Homo sapiens: one gene and its partners. The protein of the gene in region 1 purifies or fractionates together with the protein of each later gene. This does not show direct contact. Each region holds a gene or a part of one and is shown on either strand. Other genes may lie near its edges.

Region 1 (4,423 bases):
CAAACTGTTCCCAAAAATAGAGGAGAGAATACTTCCGAACTCACTCTATGAGGCCAGTATTACTCTGATACCAAAACTAACAAAGACGCATCAAAGAAAGAAAACTACAGGCCAATATCTCTAATGAATACTGATGCAAAAATCCTCAACAAAATACTAGTAAAGCAAATTCAACAATACATTAAAACAGTCATTCATCATGACCAAGTGGGATTTATCCCAGGGATGCAAGGATGGTTCAACATGTGTGAATCAATCAATGTGATAAATTATATCAACAGAATAAAGAACAAAAATCATATAATCATTTCAATTAATGCTGAGAAAGCACTTGATAAAATTCAACATCCCTTCATGATAAAAATCCTCAAAAAACTGGGCACAGAAGGAACATATCCCAGCATAATAAAAGCCATATATGGCTGGGCAAGGTGGCTCATGCCTGTAATCCCAGCACTTTGGGAGGCTGAGGGGGCGGGTCACTTGAGTCCAGGAGTTTGAGACCAGCCTGGCCAACACGGCAAAACCTTGCCTCTACTAAAAATACAAAAAATTAGCCTTGGTATGGTGGTGCATGCCTGTAGTCCCAGCTGCTTGGGAGGCTGAAGCATGAGAATTGCTTGAACCTGGGAGGGAGAGGTTACAGTGAGCCAAGATGGCACCACTGCACGCCAGCCAGAACAACAGAGCAAGGCTCTGTCTCAAAAAAAAAAAAAAAAAGTTATATACGATAGACCCACAGCTAGTATCATATTGAATGGGGAAAAACTGAAAGCCTTTCCTTCAAGATCTAGAAAAAGGATGGCCACTTTCACCACTGTTATTCAAGACAGTACTGGAAGTCCTAGCTACAGCAATCAGATAATATAAAGAAATAAAGGACATCCACGTTTGCAGGGACATAGATGAAGATGGAAACCATCATTCTAAGCAAACTATCACAAGGTCAGAAAACCAAACACCGCATGTTTTCACTCATAGGTGGGAGCTGAACAATGAGAACACATGGACACAGGGTGAGGAACATCACATACCAGGGCTGGTAGGTGGGGAGTCAGGGGCTGGGGTAGGGATAACATTAGGAGAAATATCTAATGTAAATGACGAGTTGATGGGTGCAGCAAAGAAACATGGCACATGTATACCTATGTAACAAACCTGGACGTTGTGCATATGTACCCTAGAACTTAAAAAGTATAATTTTTTTAAAAAAGCAAGAAATAAAGGACATCCAAACTGGAAAAGCAGATGACAAATTATCCTTGTTTGCAAATGATATGATCTTATATTTGGAAAAACCTAGAGACTCTGGCAAAAAACTGCTAGAACTTTAGAATTCATTAGTAAACTACTGTTTACAGATAAACAAATTCAGTAAAGTTGCAGGACACAAAATCAACATACAAAAGTCAGCAGCATTTCTATATGCCAACAGTGAACGATCTGAAAGGGAAATCAAAAAAGTAACCCATTTACAATAGCCACAAATCAAATTAAATACCTAAGCATTAACTTAACCAAAGACGTGAAAGATCTCTACAAAGAAAACTATAAAACATTTGTGAAAGAAATTTAAGAGGACACCAAAAAATGGAAAAATATTTCATGTTCATGGATTGGAAGAATCAATATTGTTAAACTGTCTATACTACCCAAAGCAATCTATAGATTTAATGAAATTCCTGTTTAAATAGCAATGACATTCTTCACAGAAATAGAAAAAAAAATCCTAAAATTTATATGGAACCACAAAAGACCCAGAATAGCCAAAGTTATCCTGAACAAAAAGAACAAAACTGGAAGAATCACATTACGTGACTTCAAATTATACTACAGAGCTATAGTAACCAAAACAGCATGGTACTGGCATAAAAACAGATACATAGACCCATGACACAGAATAGAGAACCCAGAAATAAATCCATACAGCTACAGTAAACTCATTTTCCACAAAGGTGCCAGGAACATACACTGGAGAAAGGACAGTCTCTTCAATAAATGATACCGGGAAAACAACATCCATATGCAGAATAATGAAACTAGACCCCTATCACTCACCACATAGAAAAATCAAATCAGCCTGTAATCCCAGCACTTTGGGAGGCTGAGGTGGGTGGATCACAAGGTCAGGAGTTCGAGACCAGCCTAACCAACATGCTGAAACCCCATCTCTACTAAAAATACAAAAAAAAAAAAAAATTAGCCAGGTGTGGTGGCGCGCGCCTGTAATCCCAGCTACTCAGGAGGCTGAGGCAGGAGAATCGTTTGAACCTGGGAGGCGGCGGTTGCAGTGAGCAGAGATCAAGCCACTGCACTCACTGCACTCCAGCCTGAGTGACAGAGGGAGACTCCATCTCAAAAAGAAAAAAAAGAAAAAGAAAAATCAAATCAAAATGGAATAAAGACTTAAATATAAGTCTTCGAACTATAAAACTACTTCAAGAAAACTTGGGGAGACTCTCCAGGACATTGTTCTGGGCTAAAATTTCTTGAGTAATGCCACACCAGCATAGGCAACCAAAGCAAAAATGAATAAATGGTGTCACATCAAGTTTAAAAGCTTCTGCACAGCAAAGGAAACAGTCAGCAAAGTGAAAAGACAACCCACAGAATGGGAGAAAATATTTGCAAACTACCCATCTGACAAGGGATTAATAATCAGAATACATAAGGAATGGCAAATAACTATCAGAATAAATCTAATGATCCAATTTTTAAATGGGCAAAAGATCTGAATAGACATTTCTCAAAAGAAGACATACAAATAGCAAACAGGTATATGAAAAGCTGCTCAACATCATTGATCATCAGAAAAATGCAAATCAAAACTACAATGAGATATCATCTCACTCCAGTTAAAATGGCTTTTATCCAAAAGCCAGGCAATAACAAAAGCTGGCAAGGATGTGGAGAAAGGGAACTCTCACACATTGTTGGTGAGATTATTAATTAGTTCAACTTCTATGAAGAACAGTTTGGAGGTGCCTCAAAAAAATAAAAATAGAGCTACCATACAATCCAGCAATCCCACTGCTGGGTACATAACCAAAAGAAAGGAAATCAGTATATGGAAGAGTTATCTGCATTCCCATGTTTGTTGCCGCACTGTTCACAATAGCCAAGATCTGGAAGCAACGTAAGTGTCCATCAACAGATATTTACATACAATGGAGTACTATTTAGGCATAAAAAAGAATGAGATCCTGTTATGTGCAACAACACAGATGGAACTGAAAGTCATCATGTTAAGTGAAATAAGCCAGGCACAGAAAGACAAACTTCACGTGTTTTCACTTATCTGTGGGATCTAAAAATCAAAAAAATTGAACTCATGGAGATAGAGAGTACGCTGGGCGCAGTGGCTCACGCCTGTAATCCCAGCACTTTGGGAGGCTGAGGCAGCCAGATCACCTGAGGTCAGGAGTTCGAGACCAGCTTGGCAAACGTGGTGAAACCCCATCTCTACTAAAAATACAAAAATTAGCTGGGTGTGGTGGCGGGCACCTGTAATCCTAGCTACTTGGGAGGCTAAGGCAGGAGAGTCACTTGAACCCAGAAGGCAGAGGTTGCAGTGAGCTGTGATCATGCCACTGCACTCCAGCTTCCAGCCTGGGCAACAAGAGCAAGACTCAATCTCAAAAAAAGAAAAAGAGTAGAAGGATGGTGGTTACCAGAGCTGGGAAGGGTAGTGAGAGAGAGTTGGGGGTGTGGGGAAAACTGGGGATGGTTAATGGATACAAAAAGTAGAAAGAATGAATAACACCTAGTATTTGATAGCACAAAAGGATGACTATAGTCAATAATAATTTAATGGTACATTTTAAAATCATTAGAAGAGTACAGCTGGATTGTTTATAAAAACAAAGGATAAATGCTCAAGGGGATGGATACCCCATTTACCATGATATGATTATTAAACATGTTGCATCCCTATATCAAAACATCTCATGTACCCCGTAAATATATATATACCTATGTACCAACAAAAATTAAAAATTAATATAAATAGAAATAAAAATGAAGTAGTCAAAGTCATAGAATCGAGGAGTAGAATGGTGGTTTCCAGGGACTGGAGGGCAGGGGAAAATCAGGAGTTATTAATCAACAGGCATAAAGTCTCAGTCAAGCAAGATGCATAAGCTCTAAAGATCTGCTATACAGCATTGCACCTATCAACAATACATATCAACAATAATGTATTATACACGTAAAATTTTGTTAAGAAGGCAGGCCCGGGTGCAGTGGCATACGCCTGTAATCCTGGCACTTTGGGAAGCCAAGGCAGGCAGATAACCTGAGGACAGGAGTTCAAGACCAGCCTGGCCAACATGGTAAAACCCTGTCTCTACTAAAAATATAAAAACTAGCTGGGTGCGGTGGCCAGCTACTCAAGAGGCTGAGGCAGGAGAATCCCTTGAACCCG
Region 2 (4,423 bases), on another chromosome or scaffold:
TTTTTTTTTTTTTTTTTGAGACGGAGTCTCACTCTGTCGCGCAGGCTGGAGTGCAGTGGCGCAATCTAGGCTCACTGCAACCTCCACCCCGCTGGGTTCAAGAGATTCTCCTGCTTCAGCCTCCTGAGTAGCTGGGATTACAGGCGCCTGCCACTGCACCTGGCTAATTTTTGTATTTTTAGTAGAGATGGGGTTTTACCATCTTAGCCAGGCTGGTCTTGAACTCGTGACCTCGTGATCCACCCACCTCGGCCTCCCAAACTACTGGGATTACAGGCATGAGCCACCATGCCCAGCCCTTTTTGTTTTTTGTTTTTTGTTTTTGAGATGGAGTTTCACTACTGTTGTCCAGGCTGGAGTGCAATGGTGCAATCTTGGCTCACTGCAACCTCCACCTCCCAGGTTCAAGCGATTCTCCTGTCTCAGCCTCCTCAGTAGCTGGGATTACAGGTGCCTGCCACCACGCCCAGCTAATTTTTTTGTATTTTTAGTAGAGATGGGGTTTCACCATGTTGGCCAGGCTGGTCTTGAACTCCTGACCTCAGGTGATCTGCCTGCCTTCATGTCCCAAAGTGCTGGGATTACAGGCATGAGCCACAGTGCCTGGCTAAGAATTGAGTATTTTCTAAACCTATTATCATTTGTCTTTATTGCTTCCAAGTTGGATTCAGAACATCATTAATATTGAACAGGGAAAATTATTCTTTTTTTTTTTTTTTAAATAGAGATGGGGTTTCACCATGTTGGCCAGGCTGGTCTCAAACTCCTGGCCTCAACCTCCATCGGCCTCGGCCTCCCAAAGTGTTGGGATTACAGATGTCAGCCACCATGCCCGGCCTATTCTGGGGTGATTGCTTTGTAAGGCAGTGGGAAGACACCATCTGGATGAAAGGCCAGTCCTGATCTTCACCCAGTATACCACCTCACCCAGAGTTCAATACTCCTACTGCACACAGACACAATTCAATGAGAGGCATGAAGTACTTTACCTCCTTGCATGTGGGCTGTTCAGCAGGAGACGGAAATTCAGTTAAAGGTTTAGGCAAGTTCTGGCTCTTTGCTGCTTCTCTGTTTGATGTTTCAAAAGATGTCTGACTTGTACCTTCATCACCCTGGTCAAACACAACAGACAATTTCTAAAGAGATGTTTTCTATCAACTTTATTCTATTCACAATTGTTTTTCCTTTTTCCTTTTTTTACCCTGATGGCATATCAGTAGAAAAATATTAGCAAGCCATTATGAGACCCAAAAAATTAAAGCATTATCTCCGTGGACAGGAAAACACGAGGCTTGAGCCGGGTGCTATGGCTCACACCTGTAATCCCAGCACTTTGGGAGACTGAGGAGGGCAGATCACCTGAAGTCAGGAGTTCAAGACCAGCCTGGCTAACACAGTGAAACCCAATCTCTACTAAAAAAATGCAAAAATTGGCCGGGTATGGTGGCTCACGCTTGTAATCACAGCATTTTGGAACGCCGAGGTGGGCAGATCACAGGAGGTCAGGAGTTAGAGACCAGCCTGGCCAACATGGTGAAATCCCATCTCTACTAAAAAGACATACAAAAATTAGCTGGGCGCGGTGGCAGTTACCTGTAATCCCAGCTACGTGGGAGACTGAGGCAGGAAAATCACTTGAGCCTAGGAGGCGGAGGTTGCAGTAAGCTGAGATCGCACCACTGCACTCCAGCCTGGGCGATGGAGAGAGACTCTGTCTCAAAAACAAAAATTAGCTGAGGCAGAAGAATTGCTTGAACCTGAGAGGCAGAGGTTGCATTGAGCTGAGATGGTGCCATTGCACTCCAACTTGGGCGACAGAGTGAGACTCAGCCTCAAAAAAAAAAAAAAGAAAATTTAAAATTGTAAACTTCTATAGAAACTGACAAAATTCATATTCAATGCTGAAGGAAAACATAACCAAAGTTTAATTTGACTTAAAAATCAGAATATATAATATATAATAACATATATAACCTGAGCTTAATACCTTGGAGATCTTGACTTGAGGAAAGATCAGAATATTCTTGTCCTCATATAAGACAATAACAATTTATTTGACAGTTTTAAAGACTATCTTATGTCACAGTCAGTCTTCTTTTTTTTTTTTTTTTTTTTTCTGGAGAAAGGGTCTTGCTCTGTCTCCCAGCCTAGAGTGCAGTGGTACAGTCACAGCTCACTGCAGCCTCTTGACCTCCTGGGCTCAAGTGATCCTCCTGCCTCAACCTCCCAAGTAGCTGAGACTACAGCCACACACTACCACGTCTGGCTAATTTTTAATTTTTTTTTTGTAGAGACAGGGTCTTCCTATGTTGCCCAGGCTGGTCTCAAACTCCTCGTCTCAAGCAATCTGCCTGCCTCATCCTTCCAAATTGCTGGGATTACAGGCGTTAGCCACCACAACAGCTTTTTAAGGAACCAAGTTATATGCTCTTTAGGCACCAAAAACCACTTAACCAGCCAGGTGCAGTCCATGGTAGGGTGCACCTATAGTCCCAGCTACTTAAGAAGCTGAGGCAGGAGGATCCCTTGAGCCCTGGAGTTTGAGGCTGCAGTGAGCTATGATCGTGCCACTGCACCCCAGCCAGGGCAAGAGAGAGAGACTGTCTTTTAAAAACAAAGACCAGCTGGGCTCAGTGGCTCACGCCTGTAATCCCAGCACTTTGGGAGGGTGAGGCGGGCGGATCATGAGGTCAGGAGATTGAGACCATCCTGGCTAACACGGTGAGACCCCATCTCTACTAAAAATACAAAAAATTAGCTGGGCATGGTGGCAGGCGCCTGTAGTCCCAGCTACTCGGGAGGCTGAGGCAGGAGAATGGCATGAACCTGGGAGGCGGAGCTTGCAGTGAGCCGAGATTGTGCCACTGAACTCCAGCCTAGGGGAACAAAGCAAGACTCCATCTCAAAAAAAAAAAAAAAACGACCAACCCCTTAACCATGTAATAAACAAGTATGCTGAACAAAAACTGATAATCATTATCAATAAAAACTCCTAAAAGCAGTCTAACATCATTTTCAATTAAAAATCAATCATGTAATAGGAAACATAGTAAGAGGATTCAAAATATAAAATGAGAATATTTTCCAACCCCAAGTTTGTGACCACTGCTTAATTTCCAGGCTTCACCCGTCATTTGATAAAAGCGCTCCTCCAGTTTTCTCAATTTCATTTCCTGGTGAGGTTTTAAAACATTCTCTATGTATCTGCTGGCCTGTTGAAAACAACAAATTAGGTGTTGTTACTATCCATTAATGTTCCTAAAAATGTACACTGTCTATAAAGTTGTAAATAAGAACCAAGTAAGAACCCTGCTGGCTGAACAGAGCCACTGCCACCCTGTTTGGCTGCTTGGTTGTGGGGAGGCTCGTGCCGACAGCTGGACAGCAAGCGGGACAGGCATTTGTTTTTGACCTGCCTGATTATGACAGTATCAACCAGGTTGTGGTTTTCATGCTGGGAACAATCCCATTTCCTGAGAGAATGGGAGGATCTACTTTTCCTATCCTGATTCAAATTGAATGCCGGTATGGCAACTCCAAGGATTTGTCACAAATGGGAAACCAAGTGCCATCTTTAGAATTTCAGATCTTAAATCTGGAGAGGGAAGCCAACATCCTTTGTTTTTGTTTTTGTTTTGAGATGGAGTCTCACTCTGTCACCCAGGATGGAGTGCAGTGGTGCAGTCTCCACTCACTGCCATCTCTGGCTCCTGGGTTCAAGTGATTGTCCTGCCTCAGTCTCCCAAGTAGCTGGGACTACAGGTGCCTGCCACCACGCCCAGCTAATTTTTGTATTTTTAGTAGAGACAGGGTTTCACCTTGTTGGCCAGGATAGTCTCGATCTCTTGACCTCGTGATCCACCCGTCTCAGCCTCTCAAAGTGCTGGGATTACAGGCGTGCACCACCACGCCTGGCCCAAAATTTTTTAAAAATTAGCTGAGCATGGTGGTGTGTGTGTGCCTGTAGTTCCAGCTACCCAGGAAGCTGAGGCAGGAAGATCCCATGAACCCAGGAATTTGAGGCGACAGTGAGGTATGGTTGTACCACTCCACCCCAGCCTGGGCAACAGAGAGAGGCCCAGTCTCAAAAAAAAAAAAAAAAAAAGTGGTATATCTATTCAATGGAATATTATTCATCCACAATAGGTAAATCCATACCAACAGAAAGCAGATTGGTGGTTTTCAGAGGATGGGATGAGGGCAGAGTGGGGAGTGACTGTTTAAAGAGTATACGGTTTTCTTTACAGAAGATGGAACAGAGGTGGTAGTTGTACAGCCTTGTGAATGTACTAAATGTCACTGAACAGCTTGGTCAGTTTTGGCTGGGCATGGTGGCTCATGCCTGTAATCCCAGCATTTTGGGAGGCCGAGGCAGGTGGATCACCTGAGGTCAGGAGTTTAAGACCAGCCTGGTCAACATAGC
Region 3 (4,423 bases), on another chromosome or scaffold:
GCTGAGGCAGGAGAATTGCTTGAACCTGGGAGGCAGAGGTTGCAGTGAGCCGAGATCGTGCCATTGCACTCCAGCCTGGGAAACAAGAGTGAAACTCCATCTTTTAAAAAAAAAAAAAAAAAGGCCAGGCGCGGTGGCTCACGCCTATAATCTCAGCACTTGGGGAGGCTGAAGCAGGCAGATCACGTCAGGAGATCGAGACCATCCTGGCTAACACGGTGAAACCTCATCTCTACTAAAAATACAAAAACATTAGCCGGGCATGGTGTCGGGCGCCTGTAGTCCCAGCTACGCACTCAGGAGGCAGAGGCAGGAGAATGGCGTGAACCTGCGAGGCGGAGCTTGCAGTGAGCTGAGATCGCACCACTGCACTCCAGTCTGGGTAACAAACAGAGCGAGACTCTGTCTCAAAAAATAAAAATAAAAAGTAGATGCCTAATACTGGAGGCATCAGAAGAACCAAGAAGGAAGAAATCTGAAACGTACTCTCCCTTCCCATGTAATAACATACAAAGTTACTTTACCTTTCTGCAGATTTGGAACGGGAACGAGAGCGAGAACGGCTGCCTCCTCGACGTCTATCCCTTGAACGATGCCGCTTTCTATCTTTAGATGGGGAAGACTTCCGGTCCCGGTCTCTATCCCGCTCTCTGTCAGGAGTCCGTGATCGCTTCCTTTCCTCCTTGGAAGGTGATGCATCACGGTCCTTTTTGTCAGCCAGCTCTCCTGCCATCTGTAATGAGTAGGAAGAGTACTTACAATGTACTAGGCACTGCTCTAAACTGCTTATATATAATTCAATTACCCTCAAAACAACCCTATGAGGTGGATATATTAGTATGTCTACCGTACAGATGAGAACGGTGGAGCTCAGGTATATAAAGGAACTTGTCTGAGGGCAGACAGGTAGTGGCAGAGTTGCAGGCAGTCTGGCTCCACAGGCCATCGTTACTCACTATATTGTCTCCCTGTAATTCCTTTCAGAGTCTCACTCTGTCACCCAGGCTGGAGTGCAGTGGTGCAATCATAGGTCACTGCAGCTTCAACTTCCTGGGCTCAAGCCATCCTCCTGCCTTGCCTAGCTAATTTATTTTTTTTATAGACAGGGTCTCACTATGCTGCCCAGGCTGGTCTTAAATTCCTGACCTCAAGCAATCCTCCTGCCTCAGCCTCTAAAAGGCTGAGATTACAGGCGTGAGCCACAGTGCCTGGTCGATTCCTTTTTATATATTCATTTCTAAATATGTACAGTGAATATACCATGTTTTTGTAATTAGACTACAAAAGAGTATTAAAAGAAGTGTTAGTGTATGAACAGTGTACCAACTATTTCTAGAAACATCCTATATTGCTTACTTTGAAGTTTATTAGGTCTGCCAACCCACTAGGATCAGTTAGCACTCATACGTCTGAGAGAGATAAATTTTCTTGAGCTCATAAAGAAAGCTCAATGGAGAAAAAAGTTTAACTTTGAGATCTGGATTACGTTATAATTAGCACCACAAGGAAAACCTGAATTTAAGTGGAGAAACACACTTTTACTCAGATTAAAAGAAATGTACCTCTAATTATGCAATGGGAAGAACTTGGTGAAGGGTACACAGAACCTCTATACACATTTTTTAACTTCCTGTGAAACTATAATTATTTCAAAGATATATATTTTAAATACCCAAAACTAGAGGTTGCAGAAGTCCTGATTGACATTCCCTATTCAGATTTTCACAACCTTGGTCATCTGCATAACCCAGTTTTGTGAAAGGTTTCAGCAGGAATTTTTTCTGTCTCCCTCCTACCTGGGAGACACCGAACACCACTCCCACACTGTCAACTCTTCTTTGGGCTATGAACTCTAGTTCAGCCAGGAGCTAAAACTGCAGCAAGCCTGAATCTGCAACCACCTCATCATCATCCCAAAGACTTGGGATACATTTCTCGCAACTTATTTTATCCCCAAATGGTTCAGCTCGAATGGTTCCTTAAGCTTTAGCTTACAAGCCCCTTTCTCATGCCATTCCCTGCCATATATCCTTAAGAAAGATTGTATAAAGATGAGAAAAGAAAAATGAACAAGAAGCACTTTCAAAAGGTGAGGACAACCCATTTTATCTCACAATCACCTGAGAAATGACTGATTGTTCTGTATCAGTACATCATGGCTATCACACAGAAATACCTATGTCTTGGGCTGGGCATGGTGGCTCACCGTGTAATCCTAGCACTTTTGGAGGCCAAAGCGGGCAGATCATGAGGTCAGGAGATTGAGACCATCCTGGCCAACACGGTGAAACCCCATCTCTACTAAAAATACAAAAATTAGCCAGGCATGGTGGCACGTGCCTGTAGTCCCAGCTACTCAGGAGGCTGACGCAGGAGAATCACTTGAACCCAGGAGGCGGAGGTTGCAGTGAGCCAAGATCATACCACTGCACTCCAGCCTGGCAGCAGAGCGTGATCCGTTTCAAAAAAAAAAAAAAAGAAAGAAATACCTATGTCTTGACTGGGTGTGGTGGCTCATGCCTGTAATCTCAGCACTTTGGGAGGCTGAGGTGGGTGGATCGCTTGTCCAGGAGTTCGAGACCAACCTGGGCAATATGGCAAAAACCCATCTCTACTAAAAATATAAAAAATTAGCCACGCATGGTGGTACACGCTACCCAGGAGGCTGAGGTGGAAGGACTGCTTGAGCCCGGGAGGCAGAGGCTGCAGTAAGCCGAGATTGTGCCACTGCACCCCAGTCTGGGTGACAGGGCAAAACCCTGTCACACACCAAAAAATAAAAAATAAAAAAAACACTTACAGCCCTAAGAAAACAATCCCAAAGGAAGGCTATTTTCTCTGTACAGCATCCTGGATTTCATTCATTCTTTCAACAAATATTCACCGAGCACCTACAAGGTGCCAGAAATTGTTGTAGGTAACGGAGACAAAGCAGTAAAGAAAACAAAGTCTCATGCTGGGCGTGGTGGCTCACGCCTATAATCCCAGCACTTTGGGAGGCTGAGGCGGGCAGATCAAGAGGTCAGGAGATCAAGACCATCCTGGCTAACAGGGTGAAACCCCGTCTCCACTAAAAATACAAAAAAATTAGCCGGGCGTGGTGGTGGGCGCCTGTAGTCCCACCTACTCGGGAGGCTGAGGCAGGAGAATGGCGTGAACCCGGGAGGCAGAGCTTGCAGTGAGCCGAGATCATGCCACTGCACTCCAGCCTGGGTGACAGAGTGAGACTCCGTCTCAAAAACAAAACAAAACAAAAAACAAAAAAAAAAAGAAAACAAAGTCTCCTACTTCATAAAGCTTAAATTCTAGTGTAGCGGAAAGGATTTTAAATAGTAATGAATGCTAATGAAGAAAATAAAACAGTGATATGATGGGTAGGGGTATAACAAGAGATAGATGGCTCAGGGAAGAAGTTTTAGTTGACATTTAAGCTGAGACTTGAATGATGGGAAAGAGGGCCATGAAAAGATCAGGGTAAAAAACCCTTGTTAGATACAAGAAATGTGAACTAGCTTAGCATGTTTGTCAGGTTTGTTTTGTTGTTGTTGTTGTTGAGACAGGGTCTCACCCTCTCACGCAAGATGGAGGGCAGTGGCACAATCACGGCACACTGCAGCCTTGACTTCCCAGGCTCAAGCGATCCTCCTGCCTAGGCCTCCCAAGTAGCTGGGACTATAGGCGCATGCCACCACACCTGACTAATTTTTTTTTTTTTTTTTTGAGATGGAGTCTTGCTCTGTCGCCCAGGCTGGAGTGCAATGGCATGATCTTGGCTCACTACAACCTCCACCTCCCAGGTTCAAGTGATTCTCCTGCCTCAGCCTCCTGAGTAGTTGGGATTACAGGCGCGTGCCACACCACGCCTGGCTAATTTTTGTATTTTTAGTAGAGGCGGGGTTTCACCATGTTGGCCAGGCTGGTCTCAAACTCCTGACCTCAGGTGATCCGCCCTGAGTGCCCAAAGTGCTGGGATAACAAGCATGAGCCACCATGCCCGGCCCCAACTAATTCTTAAAATTTTTATTAGAGACAAGGTCTCAATTTGTTGCCCAGGCTAGTCTTGAACTCCTGGGCTCAAGGGATCCTTCGGCCTCAGCCTCCCAAAGTGCTGGTATTACAGGTGTGAGCCCAACTACACGTTTGTCAGTTAAAAACATATTTGTTTGGCCAGGCCTGGTGGCTCATGCCTGTAGTACCAGCACCTTGGGAGGCCAAGGCGGGAGGATCACTTAAGCCCAGGAGTTCGAGACCAGCCAGGGTAATATAGCAAGACTTCCCGTCTATTTTGAACAATAAAATTTTACATTTATAAACAGTTAAAAATCAGCCGGAGGCCAGGAGCAGTGGCTCACGCCTGTAATCCCAGCACTTTGGGAGGCTGAGATAGGCAGATCATGAGGTCAGGAGTTCGAGACCAGCCTGG
Region 4 (4,423 bases), on another chromosome or scaffold:
ACAGTTCCAAGGCCAGATGTAAAAGGTCGAACAGAAATTTTGAAATGGTATCTCAATAAAATAAAGTTTGATCAATGTAAGTATCAAAACAAACATTTGTCATTTCTGTAAAGTGGTAATATACCACTCACCCTGTTTGTGGTCCTTTCATGATACATGTATTAACATTAAAAGACCAGTTCATTTTTGTCTTTTTTTTTTCCATTAGTATGTTCGTTTAAAAGTCCATTCCTTAGTGTATATCCAGGAGATTCTATTGTTTTGAACCCTGAGTCTAAAGAAAGGTTTTTTTAGAGTATTCAGACAGATAATATTTGAGGATACATACATATACATACACACACACACATTTTTTTAAGATGAATGTAAAATGCAAAATAATTTAAAAAAGCTGCAGAAACAGTAACTCATGATATAGTCAGTGTGGGGCCAAAAGAGAAGAAAGCAAATTATAAAACAAAACACATGGAAATTTATTACTCACTTGAGTAATAAATGAAATTATTAAAGCTGCAGTAGTTTCAGAGATAGCTGTATCAATTCATTAAACTATACATGTTTCCTATAAGGGCAGCTTTTATGTCTAAAGTATTTCCAGATGAAATTCAGAGAAAAAGTGACTAAACTATGGCTCAGAATAGCTAGCTATTTTCTTTTTTCCCTTGGAATGTGAGGTGTTTTTTTTTTTTGGTTTTTTTTTGAGACAAGAGTTTTGCCCTTTTTGCCTAGGCTGGAGTGGAGTGGCACAATCTTGGCTTACTGCAACCTCCACCTCCCGGGTTCAAGTGATTCTTCTGCCTCAGCCTTCTGAATAGCTGGGATTACAGGTGCATGCCACCATGCCCAGCTAATTTTTGTATTTTTAGTAGAGATGGGGTTTCACCATGTTGGCCAGGATGGTCTCCAACTCCTGTCCTTAGGTGATCTGCCTGCCCCAGCCTCCCAAAGTGCTGGGATTACAGGCATGAGCCAACGCACCCAGTTGGAATGTGAGTTCTTTGTGAAGAGCTTTCTTTTACCTGTTTTAGACTTATTAGCGTTGTGTTCTCTTTTTACATTAGCCGTTGATCCAGAAATTATAGCTCGAGGTACTGTTGGCTTTTCCGGAGCAGAGTTGGAGAATCTTGTGAACCAGGCTGCATTAAAAGCAGCTGTTGATGGAAAAGAAATGGTTACCATGAAGGAGCTGGAGTTTTCCAAAGACAAAATTCTAATGGGTAGGTTTCCTTTCTTTTTTTTCTGTCTTTTACTTTTCATTGTGTTAGATAATTCATTTAGGGGCAAATACTCTATTCAAACAGCTAAAGCCATGGCTATGTTGAATCTAATCTTACTCTAAAACTTCAGTGTCTGGGTTTTCAAGATTTGTAATAAATGATTTTACAAAATTCCCAACTTAACATCAAACAAATGCCATTAAACTGTAACATTTTCTTGACAATAATCTTGTCAGTGATACAGAACTGATTTTATAGTGTACCACATTTATTAGTTTTGTCTCTTTCTTAGAAAACCTTTTTTTCTGACTGGAAAGCTTTAAAAAGTGATGGGAACATGAAAATATATACTTGACAACACCACAATTTGGCATCTTACGAAACAAATATATTCTAGTTGCTTATGTAATTATATAGTTAAACTGGTAGTGGGGAGATGAGGCACGTATACATTTCCTCTTGTCAGACATTGCTGCGAAAAAGGATACTTTATTCTGTGCTTAATTTCGATTTTAAATCTTGGATTGGCTTAAAATCACATTAATTATGATATTCTTGTTAAACTGGAAGTTTATTTTATAGAAATAGAAATAAGTTTTCCCTTTTGAATTAAGATGATAGTTTTGACAGTTTTGGTTTTCAGTTAAATTGTTAAAGTTTGTATGTGTTAGGAATGAATTCTGCCCATTTTAAAAAACTTTGTAGACTGGGCGTGGTGGCTCACACCTGTAATCCCAGCACTTTGGGAGGCCAAGGCAGGAGGACTGCTTGAGCCCAGAATCGTTGGAGTTCAAGATCAGCTGGGCAACATAGCAAGACTCCATCTCTACCAAAAATTTTAAAAATTAGTTGGGTGGGGTGGCATGCGACTGTGGTCCCATCTACTTGGGAGTCCTAGGTGGGAGGATTACTTAAGTCCAAGAAGTTAAAGCTACAGTGAGCCATGATCATGCCACTGTATTCCAGCCTGGGTTACAGACCCTGTTTAAAAAGAAACAAAATTACTAAAAATTACTAAAGCTAGGTGCAGTGGCACATGCCTGTAATCCCAGCACTTTGGGAAGCTGAGGTGGGTGGATTGCTTGAGGCTAAGAGTTCAAGGTTGGAGTGAGCTATAATAAGAATGACTTTAAGGAGAATGAGTTTTTTGTTTTATAATATTAATCCCATATCAGATACATTCACCTCTCAGTATCCACTGAAGGGGTGGGGATTGGTTCCAGGACCCATGTGGATACCAAAATTCAGGGATGCTCAAGTGTCTTTTATAAAATGGTGTACTATTTGCATATACCTACATAATTCTCCTGTATACTTCAAATCATCTCTAGATTACTAATACAATATAAATGCTCTGTAAATAGTTGTTATAATGTATTTTTTTCATTTGTATTATTTTTTATTGTTCCTCTTCCCCATAGTTTTAATCCTTATTTGGTTGAATCTATGGATGCAGAATCTGCTGATAGGAAGGGTGGAGTGTATTTGATTTGCAGACAAGAATGTGTTTTGTTGATTTAAATATACCTTTCTAATGGAGTATTTACTCAATTAAATTTATCTTAGGGCCTGAAAGAAGAAGTGTGGAAATTGATAACAAAAACAAAACCATCACAGCATATCATGAATCTGGTCATGCCATTATTGCATATTACACAAAAGATGCAATGCCTATCAACAAAGCTACAATCATGCCACGGGGGCCAACACTTGGACATGTAAGTTTTTTGTAGTGTCTCGCCCTGTCACCCAGGCTGGAGTGCAATGGCGCGATCTCAGCTCACTGCAACCTCTGCCTTCCGGATTCAAACGATTCTTTCACCTCAGCCTCCCAAGTAACTGGGATTACAGGTGCCCACCACCACGCCCAGCTAATTTTTGTAATTTTAGTAGAGATGGGGTTTCACCATGTTGGCCAGGCTGCTCTAGAACTCCTGACCTCAGGTGATCCACCTGCCTCAGTCTCCCAAAGTGCTGGGATTACAGGCGTGAGCCACCATGCCCTGCCTAATTCTTAAATATCTAATTACTCCGCTGCCCCAAAAGGGAAAACATTATGTTTTGTAGTAACTGATTCAGTAGTTTCTCTAAGATTTTTATCATTTAGTACAAGTTTATCAGATCTTTCAACATTGTAGACATTTAAAAAATTTCTATGCACCTGGGGAGAAAACAGTCCTATTGCAGCATTATCCACCTATTGTTGTTGCTTTATAAAGGATGTTTTTATTCTCTAATTGCTGGTTTTTCATCAGTCCCCTGATGACCAGCTTTCAGCAACATGGTATAAAGTACTTTAGTGAGAGCTAAATGATAATTCTGGTTTGTATTTTTTTATTTTGCCCAGTCTTACGGTGCTGAAATTCTGGTTTTTAATGTAACTATATCAGAACTGTATCTGAATTTTTTTTAAATTTTTATTTTATTTTATATTGATGGAGTCTCGCGATGTTGCCCAGTCTACTCTCAAACTCCTGGGCTCAAGTGATCCTCACACCTCAGCCTCCCAAAGTGCTGAGACTACAGGTATGAGCCACTGCACCCAGCCTGTATCTGAATTTCTTTCATTACATTTTATTTTATTTTAATTTAATTTGGTTTTATTTTATTTATTGTATTTTATTTTTGAGATGGAGTTTCACTCTTGTTGCCCAGGCTAGAGTGCAATGGCATGATCTCAGCTCACTGCAACCTCTGTCTCCTGGCTTCAAGTGAGTCTTCTGCCTTAGCCTCCCAAGTAGTTGGGATTATAGCCATGCACCACCATGCCTGCCTAATTTTGTATTTTTAGTAGAGACAGGATTTCTCCATGTTGGTCAGGCTGGTCTCGAACTCCCAACCTCAGGTGATCCACCCACCTCGCCTGCCAAAGTGCTGGGATTCAGGCGTGAGCCACCGCACCCAGCCTCTTTGCTTATTTTTTATCTGATTAATTTTTAATTGTCTAGGTGTCCCTGTTACCTGAGAATGACAGATGGAATGAAACTAGAGCCCAGCTGCTTGCACAAATGGATGTTAGTATGGGAGGAAGAGTGGCAGAGGAGCTTATATTTGGAACCGACCATATTACAACAGGTTAGCTTTAAAGAATGGCTTTAGTTCAAATTATATGTGGTCTTAAAGATATGTTTTAAAATGGTATGTTTTTATTTTATTTTAGGTGCTTCCAGTGATTTTGATAATGCCACTAAAATAGCAAAGCGGAT
Region 5 (4,423 bases), on another chromosome or scaffold:
CCAGTCAGGCCTCTCCAGCAAAACCAGCCCTCTCCAGAATCAGCCTTTCTCACCTCATCAGTGGGGCACCCTCCCTCCTGTGGCAGATCAGAGGGTGATTCTTCTTCATCTCATTTGGTCTCTGCACCTGCTGTCGCGGTGGCCGTTCCCTCCTGCCCTTACAGCCTCTCTGCCCTGAGTTTCCAGGATACCACGCCCTGCTCTGGCTTTCCGTACCAGATGGCTGCTGTCTCCCAAACCCCTAAATGGAGGCACCACTGCAGGGCACAGCCCTTCTCTCTCGACTCACTCCCAAGCAGTCATGTCCAGCCTCATGGCTCTCATGCCCTGAGGACTCACGTTGCAAGTGCCAGCTTGGACCACCCCCTCAATCTCCAGCTCATATATTTGTCCAGCTTTCTCTTCCTAATCTCTACTTGGATACCTAACAGCATCTCAGATGTCACGTATCCAAACAGAACTCGATCCCTCCCTGTGCCCCCAGAAACGAAGAACCTTCAGAACCTGCTCTGCCCGAAGTCTTTCCCATCTCTCTCTCTTTTTTTATTTTATTTTTATAGAGACAGGGTCTCACTTGGTTGCCCAGGTTGGTTTTGAACTCCTGGCTTCAAGTAGTTCTCCCGCTTCGGCCTCCTAAAGTGTTAGGATTACAGGTGTGAGCCACAGCGCCCAGCCTCCTTTCCTATCTCAGTAAATGAGAGCTCTGGCCTTCTACTTGCTCTGTCCAAAAACCTTGGAGTCAGCCTCGATCTCTTTCTCTCCCACACTCCAAATCATACATATCTCAAAATCATCTCCTGAACATGTACTCCAAAATTGTATCCCCAGTCTCGCCATTTCTCAACCTCACTGCGGCCAGCATCTTTGTCTTAGTTACACAGCACCCTCCCCACGGAACCTGTCTCCCTCCTTGTGTGTCTGCTTTCCGTAGGAGAGTCCTTTTTAAAATTGAAGGCAGTTCACGTCTGTCTTCTGCCTAAAACCTCAGAGGTTCCCTCAATTCCAGTCGGAGGCCAAAGCCCTTCAGAGACTTTGGAGCCTACAATGCCCTCCGTGATGTAGTACTCCTCTCTACCCCAACCCCAGCCATCCTGACCCCCTGGAGCTATTCCTGGCACACACCAGGCCCCCTCCTGCTTATGAGGTGGCCTTTGCTATTTCTCAGTCTGCAGATAAATACGTGGCCATTTCCTTCACTCCCTGTAAGTATCTGCTGTCTGCTCAAATGTCCCCTAATTCACCTTGTATAACATAGTAGCCCTTCCCCTTGCCCCAGGTGATCCCCCCCACCATGTTTGCCATGTTCAATCTCCAACGAGCCAGTCTCCATCTGAAGGGCCATCTCCTGCACTCCTCATCAGACATAAGCTCTTGGACTTGGTCCATTTTATTCTCACCCGCACTTCTAGAACCTAAAACCCATCGTGGTACTTGAGAGGAACTCAGTGAGTGAATCAAAGTGGATCACAGCTCAGTTTTGGAAACAAAGCCAAATCACTTACCTAGATTAGAGCTGGCGTCAGCCATCTCTCCTCAGATAATATTTGAAGGCTCAGTACAGTGGCGCGCACACTTTGGGAGGCCAAGACAGGAAGATCACTTGAGCCCAGGAGCTCAAGGTGGTAGTGAGCTGTGATTGTGCCCCTCAGCCTAGATGACAGAGTGAGACCCTGTCACTTCAAAAAAAAAAAAAAATTTTTGTCTTGAAGTCTACCTTATCTGTTACTATATAGCTTTTTTAGTCTTCTTATGCTTACTATTTATTTTTTTTACCCATTCACATTTAACCTGTCTCTGTTTGTGTGTGTGTGTGTGTGTGTGTGTGTATATATATATATATATTTTTTTTTTTTTTGGAGACGGAGTTTCGCTCTTGCACCCCAGACTGGAGTGCATTTGGCTCACTGCAACCTCCACCTCCCAGGTTCAAGCAATTCTCCTACCTCAGCCTCCTGAGTAGCTGGGATTACAGGCGCCCACCACCACACCCAGCTAATTTTTGTATTTTAAGTAGAGACAGGGTTTCACCATGTTGGCCAGGCTGGTCTCAAACTCCTGACCTCAAGCGATCCTCCTGCCTCAGCCTCCCAAAATGCTAGGATTACAGGCGTGAGCCACTGAGCCTGGCCAAGTTTTGAGTGTTCTTTATCAATTCTGGAATTGCTTTTATTCTGGAAGAGCTTTTATTCTGGAAGAGTGTGATCAGGTATTGTCAGTGGCTACTCAGCATGTTTTCTTTTTCTGGCTTTTCAGCAGTTTGTGATGTACATAGATAAGGCTGTTGTTGTATTTATGATGCTTGGGGTTTCCTAAACTTCTTGCATCTGTAAATTTCCTTTTCCTCACTGGGGCTCTAATTACCAATATATTAAACTTAACACTCTTCCACGGGTTTCTGAGATTCTGTCCATGCATCCTCAGTCCTTTTCCTCTTGTTGACCAGGCTGGAGTGCTGTGGTACAATCTGCCTCCTGGGTTGAAGCGTTCTCCCGCCTCACTCAGCCTCCCGAGTAGCTGGGACTACAGACAGGTACCACCACGCCCGGCTAATTTTTGTATTTTTGGTAGAGATGAAGTTTCACCATGTTGGCCAGGCTGGTCTCAAATTCCTGACCTCAGGTGATTCGCCCACCTCAGCCTCCCAAAGTACTGGGATTACAGGCGTGAGCCACCACGCCTGGCCAAATTTTTTATATGTGGTCCAGAGTTTACACATTGGTCCAATAGGAGCTACTTTACTCAGCCACCACTGGAAGCAGAACCTCCTTAACTGACTAACTTTTGAAGTCTTCACTAACTTCTTTGGAAACCTCAGTTAAGAACTGAGATGTGACTCTCCAGTGACATCTGGAGGAGCCCATTCCTGTCCTCTCCAGCCTATGACTGAATGCACCTGTAGGGGACGTTGACCCCGTGAAGTGTTCCTCTTGTTGCTTTGGCTTGAGGTCAGCAGACACTGGGATCTTTCTTCTGTCACAGTGTCAGATCCATCAGCCAGACTTTGGAACGGGAGGCCAGAAGGTGGTGGACTGTGAAAGGAGCAGACTGCAGGCTCCTTTAACTCGCAGCTGCACGCAGCACAAGTTCTCTTCCTGTGCCTGACACCCCATTGCCCTTCCCTGGAAAACCTGATTCATCTTGGCTTTTTTTTTTTTTTTTTTGTATTTTTCCCCAGGCTCAACAGGGCCAGTCAGACATACTTCTTCCCTATTCACTTGACGGACCAGCTTCTGCCCAGCGCCATGTTCTATGCCACCGTGGGGCCTCTAGTGGTCTACTTTGCCATGCACCGTCTGATCATCAAACCATACCTCAGGGCTCAGAAAGAGAAGTGAGTTGACACGTCATGGGCATGTCACTAGCCAGCCCTGTGCCTCAGTTTCCTCACCCTTAAAATGGAGAGGATAACAGAGCCTCCTGCGTCGGGTGATGAGGAAACCTGAATTAAGTAATGCATGTAAAGCACTTAGGCTGATGTCTGGGTCACGATTGGTAAATGTTAACTATTTCTCCTCATTGTCCGTAGTTGGACTGCTGTTATCTCTTCGTTTGTAAATCTTACTCTCAGAAAGGACTGGAGTTTATAGAAGTGTTGGGCCTCGGCTGGGCGTGGTGGCTCACGCCTGTATTCCCAGCACTTTGGAAGGCTGAGGCAGGTGGATTACCCGAGGTGAGGCGTTCAGGACCAGTCTGGCCAACATGGTGAAACCCTGTCTCTACTAAAAAAATAGAAAAATTAGCCGGGCGTGGTGGCACGTGCCTGTAATCCCAGCTACCTGGGAGGCTGAGACAGGAGAATTGCTTGAACCTGGGAGGTGGATGTTGCAGTGAGCCTAGATTGCGCCATTGCACTCCAGCCTGGGTGACAGAGCAAGACTCGGTCTCAAAAAAAAAAAAAAAAAAAGTGTTGATCCTCTAAACCATGGCCTCAAGAAAGAAGAAGTTTTCCTTTCTCCTTTCCCAGCGCTGAGTTTAAGAGGAATGCGTTCTGGATCCGTATGTGAGGGGCCTGCGTTAACTAGAGTCTTGAAAGTCACAGAAACACAACGTTTTTGCAGTTTCTTAGATAATCCATTGGGGCATGCCGTGAAACCTAAATTATTAGTGCAAGCATCTCTACAGAAAACTGAGAGCTGGTATAGATTTGTTACTTTATAATATCTCATTTAGTAAAGCATTGCACTTAGAGAATCTCAGATAAAGGAATGAATCTCCTCTTCTGGGCCCGTCTGGCCTTTGGACTCAGAATCCTAATTCCCTAGGAGGCTTGAGGCTTAGAACAAGACATGTGCTGGCCCAGCCTTCTCTCAGAAGGGAGGACAGGCATATGCTGACCCCAAGGCCCATACTTTGTTACAGGAAAGCGGATCTGTGTGTCTAAAGTGGTATTAGTTGTTCCTACCAAAAGTGTTATTTAACAACT
Region 6 (4,423 bases), on another chromosome or scaffold:
GCTGGTCCAGGATGAAACTTGCCACCCTGAGGGAGAACTGCCCCCGCTTGCCTGCCCTTTCCAAACTGATTCTTTCTGAATAAAGCCTGCATGCTCACTGGAGGAACAGGGTGGAGCCACAGGAAGTTCGAACCTTGTGCAGAGGGAGGAGCCTGGTCTCCAGCTCGTGGGTGGTGACCTGGAATTAATCTGCGAGGCAGGGGCCTGTGAGTAGGACCCCCTCCCGCTTTGTTGAGTTTCTTTTTTTTTTTTTCTTTTTTTCCTTTACATCCAATAAATTCTGCTCTACTCACCCTTCAATGTGTCAGCACGCCTAATCTTTCCTGGCCATGTGACAAGAACCCAGTTTTAGCTGAACTAAGGAGCAAAAATTCTGCAACACAGCCACCATCATCTCTTGCCTGGAATTCTAAATGCATTTTCTGCTTCTACCAATGCCTCTATACAGGCTCTTCTCAGCAAAGCAAACAGGATTCTCCTTTTAAAATATAAGATCATGTCACTCTTTTGCTTAAAACCCTGTCATGACTTTCCATTTCACTCAGAGAAAAGCCAAAGTCCCCTACAGTGGCCTTTAAGGCCCAGTGTGACCCAGCCGTCTATGACCTCTCTGAGTTGACCTCCTCCCACTCCCTGCCAGGCTCCCTGCAGCCCCCTAACCTCCTGACTAACCCACTGGGTGTATCCTCAGCTAAGGGCTTTTCTCTGACTATTGTCTCTGACCCAAGAGCTCTTTCTCTACATGTTCACAAATGCCACCTTCTCAGCGGGACCTACACCCATAGCTTTATTGTATATCACAGACCACCCAACTTACCCCCCAGGAACCCATCCCATACCCTCTTACAACGCTATCCTTTCTGTTTTTGTTTTTTTTTTTTTTAGCACCAATTACCTTCTAACATAATATATGATTTTCTCTTTCATTTTGAGTTGGGGTCTTTCGCTGTTGCCCAGGCTGGAGTATAGTGGCATGATCATAGCTCACTGAAGCCTTGAACTCCTGGGCTCAACCAATCCTCCAACCTCAGCCTCCCAAGTAGCTAGGACTGCAGGTATGTACCCACATGTGGCTAATTTTTTAATTTTTTTTTAATAGAGAGAGGGGGCTCTTGCTATGTTGCCCAGGCTGCTCTTGAACTTCTGGTCTCAAGCAGTTCTCCCGCCTGGGCCTACTGAGTCCCTGGGATTACAGGTGTGAGCTACTATGCCCAGCTTATATTATTTTCTTATAATATCATCTGCTTATTGTTTATTTTCTGGCTTCCTCAGCAAACTCCAAGAGGGCAAGGATTTTTGTGGGATTTGTTCATGGATCTAGGCCAAGCTATTATAACAATGCCCGGTACACAGAAGTGCTCAATAAATACTTAATGGGTAAATAATAAATACAAATGAAAGACAAAGGCCAAAAAAGACACAAAGATACTTGGAAGAAACAGAAATGTTACAGAGAATTTTTAAAATTATAATTAAAATCCTCAAATATAAGAGAATAAACTACATCAATGAAATAAAAAAGTGACGGTTTAACATCAGCACCAACAACTAAAAAGCAATCAGAGAATAAAAATAAGTTATTGGAAATTAAAATTATGATATCTCAAATTTCAGATAAAAAGTTAGAAGTTGAGGAAATTCCTCTGAAAGAACAAAAATCCAAAATTATGAAAACCTGAAGATAAAAGAAAACTAGAGGATCAGTCCTGGAGGTTAACACACAACTAGTATGCGTTTTAAGAATGAAAGAACAGAGAAAATGAAGGAGAGGAAATCTGGGGGAAGAAATAATATTAAAAAATATTCTGGGCCAGGAGTAGTGGCTAACACCTGTATTCCCAGCACTTTGGGAGGCTGAGGTGGGCAGATTGCTTGAGCCCAGATGTTTGAGACCAGACTGGGCAACATGGTGAAACCTTATCTCTACCAAAAAATACAAATATTAGCAGGGCATTGTAGCACAGATCTGTAGTCCTAGATACTCAGGAGGCAGAGGTAGGAGGATTGCCTGAGGCTGGCAGGTCAAGGCTGCAGTGAGGTGAGATTGTGCCACTGTACTTCAGCCAAGGCAACACTGAGACCCTGTCTCAAAACAAAAAAAAAATTCTAAAACAGAAGGACATGAGTTTTCAGGCTGTGAAAAGGCCTCACCTGGGGTTGAGCACAGTGAAGAAAAAGCCTCTCAACAAGCACAATGCTATTAACATCTCGGGACAGTAGGCCAGGCAAGATCCTGAAGCTTCCATAGTTTCCAAACAAAAGGTCCAGAATCAGAATAGCACAGAACATCTCAACAATATCAGTGGGAACTAGGAAGCCATGGAGCAAATTTTTTCAAAAACTCTAAGGGTAAGGATTTCTAATACAGAAATGCATTTAAACAAGCCATCCCTTAACTGTGAGGCAAGATAAAGGTGCATTTTCAGATATGTGAAGTCTCAAAACTTTACCAAACATTCACCCTTTCTCAGGAAGCTTCTGAAGGGTGCACTCCACTAAAAAGAGAGAGAAAACCAATAAACAGGAAAACAGGAGGTCCAGGAAATCCAAATCAGGACAGTATAAGGGAAATTTCTAGGATGGTGACAGGAAGTCCCAGGATAGCAGCTGTGCAGCAAGCACCAAGAGCATCCCGCAACTTGAAGCGAAAAGTGGAGGACTCAGGCAGAAATGACTCCAAGACAGAAAAATGTATTACTAGATTATCTAATGCATTTGAATGTAACGAAAGGAGATTTTCAGTTCTGCAGAAGATTTGGGCATGAAACTAAGCAAACAAAGAAATAAAGAGCAATTATTAACCCTAGGGAAAAAAAATTGCACAAGAAGGAAATGTAACCACAGTATACTATAAGGCCCTGCTTTCAACATTATTTTCTTAATCACAATAATTATAAACATTGGCTATTGATTTAACCTAACAGAGTGATATAATGTTACTGGAAGGATGAGGTAAGGAAAAGAAGAAGTAAAGGAGCATGAAATTATTTCTTCCATAAAAAGAAGCCAACTGACAATGTCTAAAATTTGTGAATCAATAAATAGCAGTGAAAGTATAATGTTTAGAAATACAGAAGTAAATACCCAAAGTAGTAATCAAAAAGGGTTATCTCTAGGGATAGAGGGAGAGGGGAGGTAGGGACAAGGAAGAGTTATTTGTTGTCATAAAACCTGTAATCCCACTTTATCTTCAGATCACGTACATAAATTACTTTGATAAAAATAAACATTAATTTTGAGGTGTGGGACATGCTGGCTCCAAACCAATACTTTCCACTTGACTTAACCATAAGGATTCAAAGATAATTGAAATGAGAATGACTTCTCATCATGTAGTTCAATGTTATTTAAAACCAAGTCTACACACCTCTTACAATTATCTCGTGTACTCCCGGTGGTATTCACCCCACGCTTTCAAGCCTAGGGAGTAGTCTGTAAAACCCTCCTTGGAGCAAGTGGATAATCAAGAGACCAATGTTATCATCTCAAGGACCAAGGCCTACCAAAATTGATTCAAGATGTAACAAAAAGCCTGCCTAGTCCAATAATCATTAAAGAATGCAAATCCCATAATTTAAAAATTTCCCACCAGAAAAACATTAGGCCCAGATTATTTTAAGGCAAGTTCTACACAACCTTGAAGGAACACACTCTTCCAACCTTATTAAAATTATCTGAGAAAGTAGAACAGGATGCTTCCTCCAACTCATTTGACACTAGGTTCATCTGTATCAAAATGAGACAAGAACCAGACAAGAAAGGCAAAGTGTAGGCCAATCTCACTTGTAAACATAAATGAAAAATCCCAAGATGGTAACAAAAGAACCCAATGATATATCAGTGGTGACGCATGAAATGTTTCTTAAAGCACGTATTTTGGGGGATGAAATATAAAGTACGCCCTAGCATTCCTGCAGCAGGCAAGTTCACGGTGTTTATGGTGGAACATTTTGTGTGGGTCTGAAAAAACAAGGAGCACAAGATGATCAAAAAACATGGCGCATGCATGTGAGCTGGCAAGCTTTCTCATTCTTACAGGTTTCTGATTTTAAGAAATGGTTCACAGAGAAACTGGCAAAAGATTAATCCTGATCTACCTCTGTTTTGAAGTAGGGAGGAAAAAATAAGATAGAAAATTGTAGCATAACGAATCCAACTTCAGACTATTGTGGTCTCACAAGGCTCCAGGGGGCCTCTTTGACCCAGTGACCCTCCTTGGGAGACACAGCAGTCCCTCCTGAGATCCCAGCCTTTTCTGTAAATATACCCTGCTGAATTGGTAATAGATGTGGGCAGAGACTTCATGCCCCGAACCCTTCAAACTTTCTGGATTCTGAGAACGGTCTTGGCTGTGAAGAGTGACTTGTTATAACTAGATATTGCACATGAACTTAGGGTCTTCTCCATATCCCTTTCCCCTAGT
Region 7 (4,423 bases), on another chromosome or scaffold:
CGTGGAGAAACCCCATCTCTATGAAAAAATACCAAAATTAGCCGGGTATGGTGGCATGCGCCCATAGTCCCCGTTACTCAGGAGGCTGAGGTAGGAGGATCACTTGAGCCTGGGAGTCGGAGGTTGCAGTGAGCCAAGATCATGCCACTGCACTCCAGCCTGGGTGAGAGTGAGACCTGTCTCAAAAAGAAAAAAAAAAAGAAACTTGAAATAATTTCACAGGACTGGAGAATGCAACATGTATAGAGAGCAGCAGCCAGGTCATGAAAGGTCTCATACGCCACCTAAGAGTTTGAATGCTTTTGGCAGGCTGGTGTTATGTTAAGTTTTCCGGCCTTTAACGTTATTTGAAATTTTGAAAGTTATTCTTATTTTAAAAATACACAACTATTTATGGTATTGCATATGCTTTTCAAAACTGCATATCTCCTCTGATCTTACTGCAGGAGAGTCTCATAACCTCTCTCCCGAAATTCCTGCTATAGGCAATCAGTATACATGGAAGGGTGTGTGGGAGGTATGGCAGATTCTATAATAGACACTGGCTCATTCAACATTAATTCCAATATCCTTTTCCAGCATTTGTTTTGGTACTACAGAGTTTAGAAAGCCAAAAGCCCCTTCTCAGACTTCCTTGAGGCCAAGGTTTTAAATATTACCTAGGTTTCACCAAAAAACCCGGCCCATGTGAGGCCTCAGATGCAGAAATGAACAATGTAGGGGTGGTGATAGCACTTAGGAGCTCAAACAGCTGGGACTGAGGTCCCTGATGTCATAGACCCTGAGTGGCAGGTGATAACTTCAGTGAGGTTTTCTAGTTTAGTATTGTGGCATAGTTGGGTATTTCTCTTCACTATATAGCAGTTAAGCTTTGCATCCCTACTTTCCTAGAAAGTCTATAAATTGCCTGATACTGTATAATTAATCACTTTCTGCTTTAAATTAGTTACAGTAGATTCTGTTTTCTGCAATAAGAAGCCTAGTAATAGGTACGGCAGGATGGTGAATAAAGAGGTATATATATATAGATTTTTTTAAAAAGGTTCCAGCATGAAACCTGTAGTATATTTATTACAGATGGGCTCTCTAATCTTTTTAGATAGATTCTCTAATCTTTTTAGATAGATTCATACATACTTCTGAAATAGTTCTGGAAGGACTTGTTAGCTGAGGTACTTTTGTTCATTGTTTTTAGCTTAAAAATTAGGGCTCTGCCAAATTTCTTGTTTTAAAATAAACTTTTTTTGTTAGAGGGGAGACACCGATTCTTGGAAAGCTTTTCTTTATCTACTAATTGTGGGTGTTTTATGTCACCTTTCCTCAAATACATATGCTTCCCTAATGTATCTTTATCATCACTTAAGCAGTGGCCGTTTACCTTTTGGGTCACAGACCCAAATCTGCTACCCAAATCTGATAAAAGTTTATTGATACCTTACCTCCAAATACACATACAAATATATTCCTGTAGTTCCATATACAATATGAGTTAGACACCGTTCTCTTTCCTTATACCCTTTAAGTATATTCAGTAAATGAAGGTCAAAAATTCCTACTCTAGAATGACAGAAGTGAGGTCCAAAACCAGCATTAGTTATCTCTTAGAATGAAGGAGAAAATGTGGTTCAAAATCAGACATTTTTCAGAGAAATAGCTTGCTATCCTCCTCAATCAGAAAAATTTTTTTCCAAATCCCAAGAACCTGTGAATTAATAAATTATTTCCCCAAATACATTTTTTCCCCAAGAAATTTAATTAATTGTTTTTGAAATCAGAAAATTAAACAAATCGTCTCCCCCCACTTCCTCTGCCCTCCTATATATACTCACCATGTTTTGGGCTGAGAATGGGAAAGGGATCTCCTAGTTTCCAGAAGAAATACATAAAGGTCAGCCATAAGAGACAGGAAAAAAGCAGTCGTTGTTTATGCACTGAGACAGAGGAGACAAAACTGTTAGGAAAAACAGATATAGGTTAAAGAGCTTGCTCTATTTAAAAATATAAGATAATGCTAACTAATATTTGGCTGCTAATTCACTTGGCAAATGACTGATGAACAGCATAATTTTTAGTGAAAGCATCCTTACCATCGTAAGAGAAATTTAGCTGAATTTAAGGTGTGGGATGAACTAAAGGAGACATTATTAATAGGTAGAAAAATAAAGCTGTGGCAGAACAAATAACCTAATCATTCATTCAATATTTATTTTGTGCCAATTCATTCAATATTTATTTTATATTTATTTTTAAGATGTTGTGTGTGAGGTATCCTCAAATAGCGGTAGATACTGAAAGTTAATGTAGAAATGAAGCTATCCACAATTTAAGTCCCCTCAAATACTCATCTCAATCTATATGCTGACTGAGAGGGTAAAATACTTACGTAGTCGGATATTGCTCACAATAAAATAGCCAATGTAAAAAGGCACCATGAAAACCAGGATCAGCAGAATTACACACAGGTTCATTTTCCAGTGAAAATAACGGGAGCTGAAATAAATGTCAAAGACTGTCACTGGGAGGAAGAGAGGGCAGCAACTTTCTTTCTCTTTAGTCTTCCAAAGGGTCCTTTTGCTCTTTGGACTCAATATTGAATATATCCTATCTAATCAGCCTACTAGGCTCTTAAAATCTACTCATTTGTAGAGATTAAAAAATACAAATTTTTGAAAGGTATATATGACCATCTTAACATCTTAAGAATTTCATATATTAAAATAAGAATGTTTATGTTTTTGATATATTCATAGGCAACATATACCATTAACATGTATCAACATATGCCATTGCTGGTAGAATGACTATTGTTTTACCCACCCCTAGGAATCTCATTCCAATGTAAGAATTAAAGGAAAATAAATGTTAACAGTAATATATGTTATACTCAAAAATATTTCTTTTGTACTCTTGATATAAACACCTGATTTGCATGAATTACTTTTATTAGTTTATAAGATGTACTTCATTTATTAAAACTTTTTGTTAGCACTTTTTATAACAGTTTTAATGAGATATAATTTACCCATTTAAAGTGTACAATTCAATGGTTTTTGTATACTCAAGAGTTGTGCAACCATCACCTAAATCAATTTTAGAACATTTTCATTACGCCATAAAGAAACCCTGTACCCATTAGCAGTCACTCCCTGTTTCTCCCCAATCTCCTCAGCTCTAGGAAACCACCAATATACTTTCTGTTTCTAGGAAACCACCAATATGTAATCTTTTGTGACTGGCTTCTTTTACTTACCATAATGTTTGCAAGGTTCATCCATGTTGTAGTATCTATCAATAATTCCTTTTATGGTTGAACAATATTCATCCCATTATATGGATATATTATATTTTGTTTCTGCATTCATTAATTGAGGACATTTGGGTTGTTTTTAGCTATTATAAATAGAGACGCTAGGAATGTGTGTGTATACATTCTGGTGTGGACGTATGTTTTCATTTCTCTTTAGGTAGAAATGGAGTGGAATTGTTGGGTCATATGATAAATCTATATTTAATCTTTTAGGCACTCCCACTGTTTCCCAATGTGGCTGCATCATTTTACATTTTCCTCAGGAGTGTATGAGAGTTCCAGTTTCTCCTCAGCCTCGCCAACACTTGTTATTTTCTGTTTTTTTTTTGGTTATAGCCATTTTAGTTGGTGTGAAGTGGTATCTCATTGTGGTTTTGATTTGCATTTCCTTGATGGCTAATGGTATTGGGCATCTATTCATATGTGCTTACTGGCCATTTGTATATCATCTCTGGAGAAATGCCTATTCAGATCCTTTATTCATTTTTTAATTGTATTATATGATTAAACTATAAGAATTCTTTATATATTCTAGATACGAGTCCCAGTCCATTATCAGATAGGTAATTTATAAAAATTTTCTCTTGTTTTTGGAATGTTGGTTCACTTTCTTGATGGTGTCCTTTGTATTTACTGATTTTAAACTTACTTAAGCCTTGTTTCAAAAAAGGCCTAAGTGGTTAAATGGCTTACAAAGATAAATAAAATACAGGATGATGAAATGAACTATAAGGAAATATGAACAACAATGGTAACAGGTAAAATATTGGGCCAAGCCTGATGGCTATTATAAAACAGAATTCTAGAAAGTTGCTATGGGTAGGTCATAAATTTAGCTTTAAGTTTTCTAATGGTCAATGTGAAATAAAAAATTTGATCAGTTAGATAAAATCATCATGTCTGTAAGAAAATAAAAATTAATTCCTCAAAGGAAGCATAATTATCATTTATTGTTACTGAATTATTAACAAGATTACAATGAAATTTCTTCAAAGATTTCATAAAGAAAATGCAAAGGCAATTAACAGTGTCATCAACAACATCCTTTCAAGAGAAATATGTTTCAGAGGGCTGTTTCTTATTGTTCCTTCCTTAGTACAGATGGCAGGCATCACG

What was found.
Region 2: the proteins of SLC35G2 (region 1) and UBXN8 purify together in Homo sapiens (affinity purification with mass spectrometry; one large-scale study listed by BioGRID and IntAct). This does not show direct contact.
Region 3: the proteins of SLC35G2 (region 1) and DDX23 purify together in Homo sapiens (affinity purification with mass spectrometry; one large-scale study listed by BioGRID and IntAct). This does not show direct contact.
Region 4: the proteins of SLC35G2 (region 1) and YME1L1 purify together in Homo sapiens (affinity purification with mass spectrometry; one large-scale study listed by BioGRID and IntAct). This does not show direct contact.
Region 5: the proteins of SLC35G2 (region 1) and DNAJC11 purify together in Homo sapiens (affinity purification with mass spectrometry; one large-scale study listed by BioGRID and IntAct). This does not show direct contact.
Region 6: the proteins of SLC35G2 (region 1) and MGST2 purify together in Homo sapiens (affinity purification with mass spectrometry; one large-scale study listed by BioGRID and IntAct). This does not show direct contact.
Region 7: the proteins of SLC35G2 (region 1) and GPR89A purify together in Homo sapiens (affinity purification with mass spectrometry, with the first as the bait; one large-scale study listed by BioGRID). This does not show direct contact.

Annotation. Positions count from the first base shown.
Region 1 is NC_000003.12:136,821,539-136,825,961, reverse strand, and holds part of SLC35G2 (solute carrier family 35 member G2), read right to left. Parts: intron 1-4,423.
Region 2 is NC_000008.11:30,753,454-30,757,876, reverse strand, and holds part of UBXN8 (UBX domain-containing protein 8), read right to left. Parts: intron 3,213-4,423; coding exon 3,090-3,212; intron 1,113-3,089; coding exon 990-1,112; intron 1-989. UniProt on the Homo sapiens protein: Involved in endoplasmic reticulum-associated degradation (ERAD) for misfolded lumenal proteins, possibly by tethering VCP to the endoplasmic reticulum membrane. May play a role in reproduction.
Region 3 is NC_000012.12:48,845,050-48,849,472, forward strand, and holds part of DDX23 (probable ATP-dependent RNA helicase DDX23), read right to left. Parts: intron 734-4,423; coding exon 525-733; intron 1-524. UniProt on the Homo sapiens protein: Involved in pre-mRNA splicing and its phosphorylated form (by SRPK2) is required for spliceosomal B complex formation.
Region 4 is NC_000010.11:27,116,088-27,120,510, reverse strand, and holds part of YME1L1 (ATP-dependent zinc metalloprotease YME1L1), read left to right. Parts: coding exon 1-76; intron 77-1,061; coding exon 1,062-1,217; intron 1,218-2,783; coding exon 2,784-2,935; intron 2,936-4,165; coding exon 4,166-4,292; intron 4,293-4,377; coding exon 4,378-4,423. UniProt on the Homo sapiens protein: ATP-dependent metalloprotease that catalyzes the degradation of folded and unfolded proteins with a suitable degron sequence in the mitochondrial intermembrane region.
Region 5 is NC_000001.11:6,638,810-6,643,232, reverse strand, and holds part of DNAJC11 (dnaJ homolog subfamily C member 11), read left to right. Parts: intron 1-3,175; coding exon 3,176-3,331; intron 3,332-4,423.
Region 6 is NC_000004.12:139,678,703-139,683,125, reverse strand, and holds part of MGST2 (microsomal glutathione S-transferase 2), read right to left. Parts: intron 1-4,423. UniProt on the Homo sapiens protein: Catalyzes several different glutathione-dependent reactions. Catalyzes the glutathione-dependent reduction of lipid hydroperoxides, such as 5-HPETE.
Region 7 is NC_000001.11:145,621,121-145,625,543, reverse strand, and holds part of GPR89A (Golgi pH regulator A), read right to left. Parts: intron 2,491-4,423; coding exon 2,384-2,490; intron 1,952-2,383; exon of another isoform or gene 1,932-1,951; coding exon 1,830-1,931; intron 1-1,829. UniProt on the Homo sapiens protein: Voltage-gated channel that enables the transfer of anions such as iodide, chloride, bromide and fluoride which may function in counter-ion conductance and participates in Golgi acidification.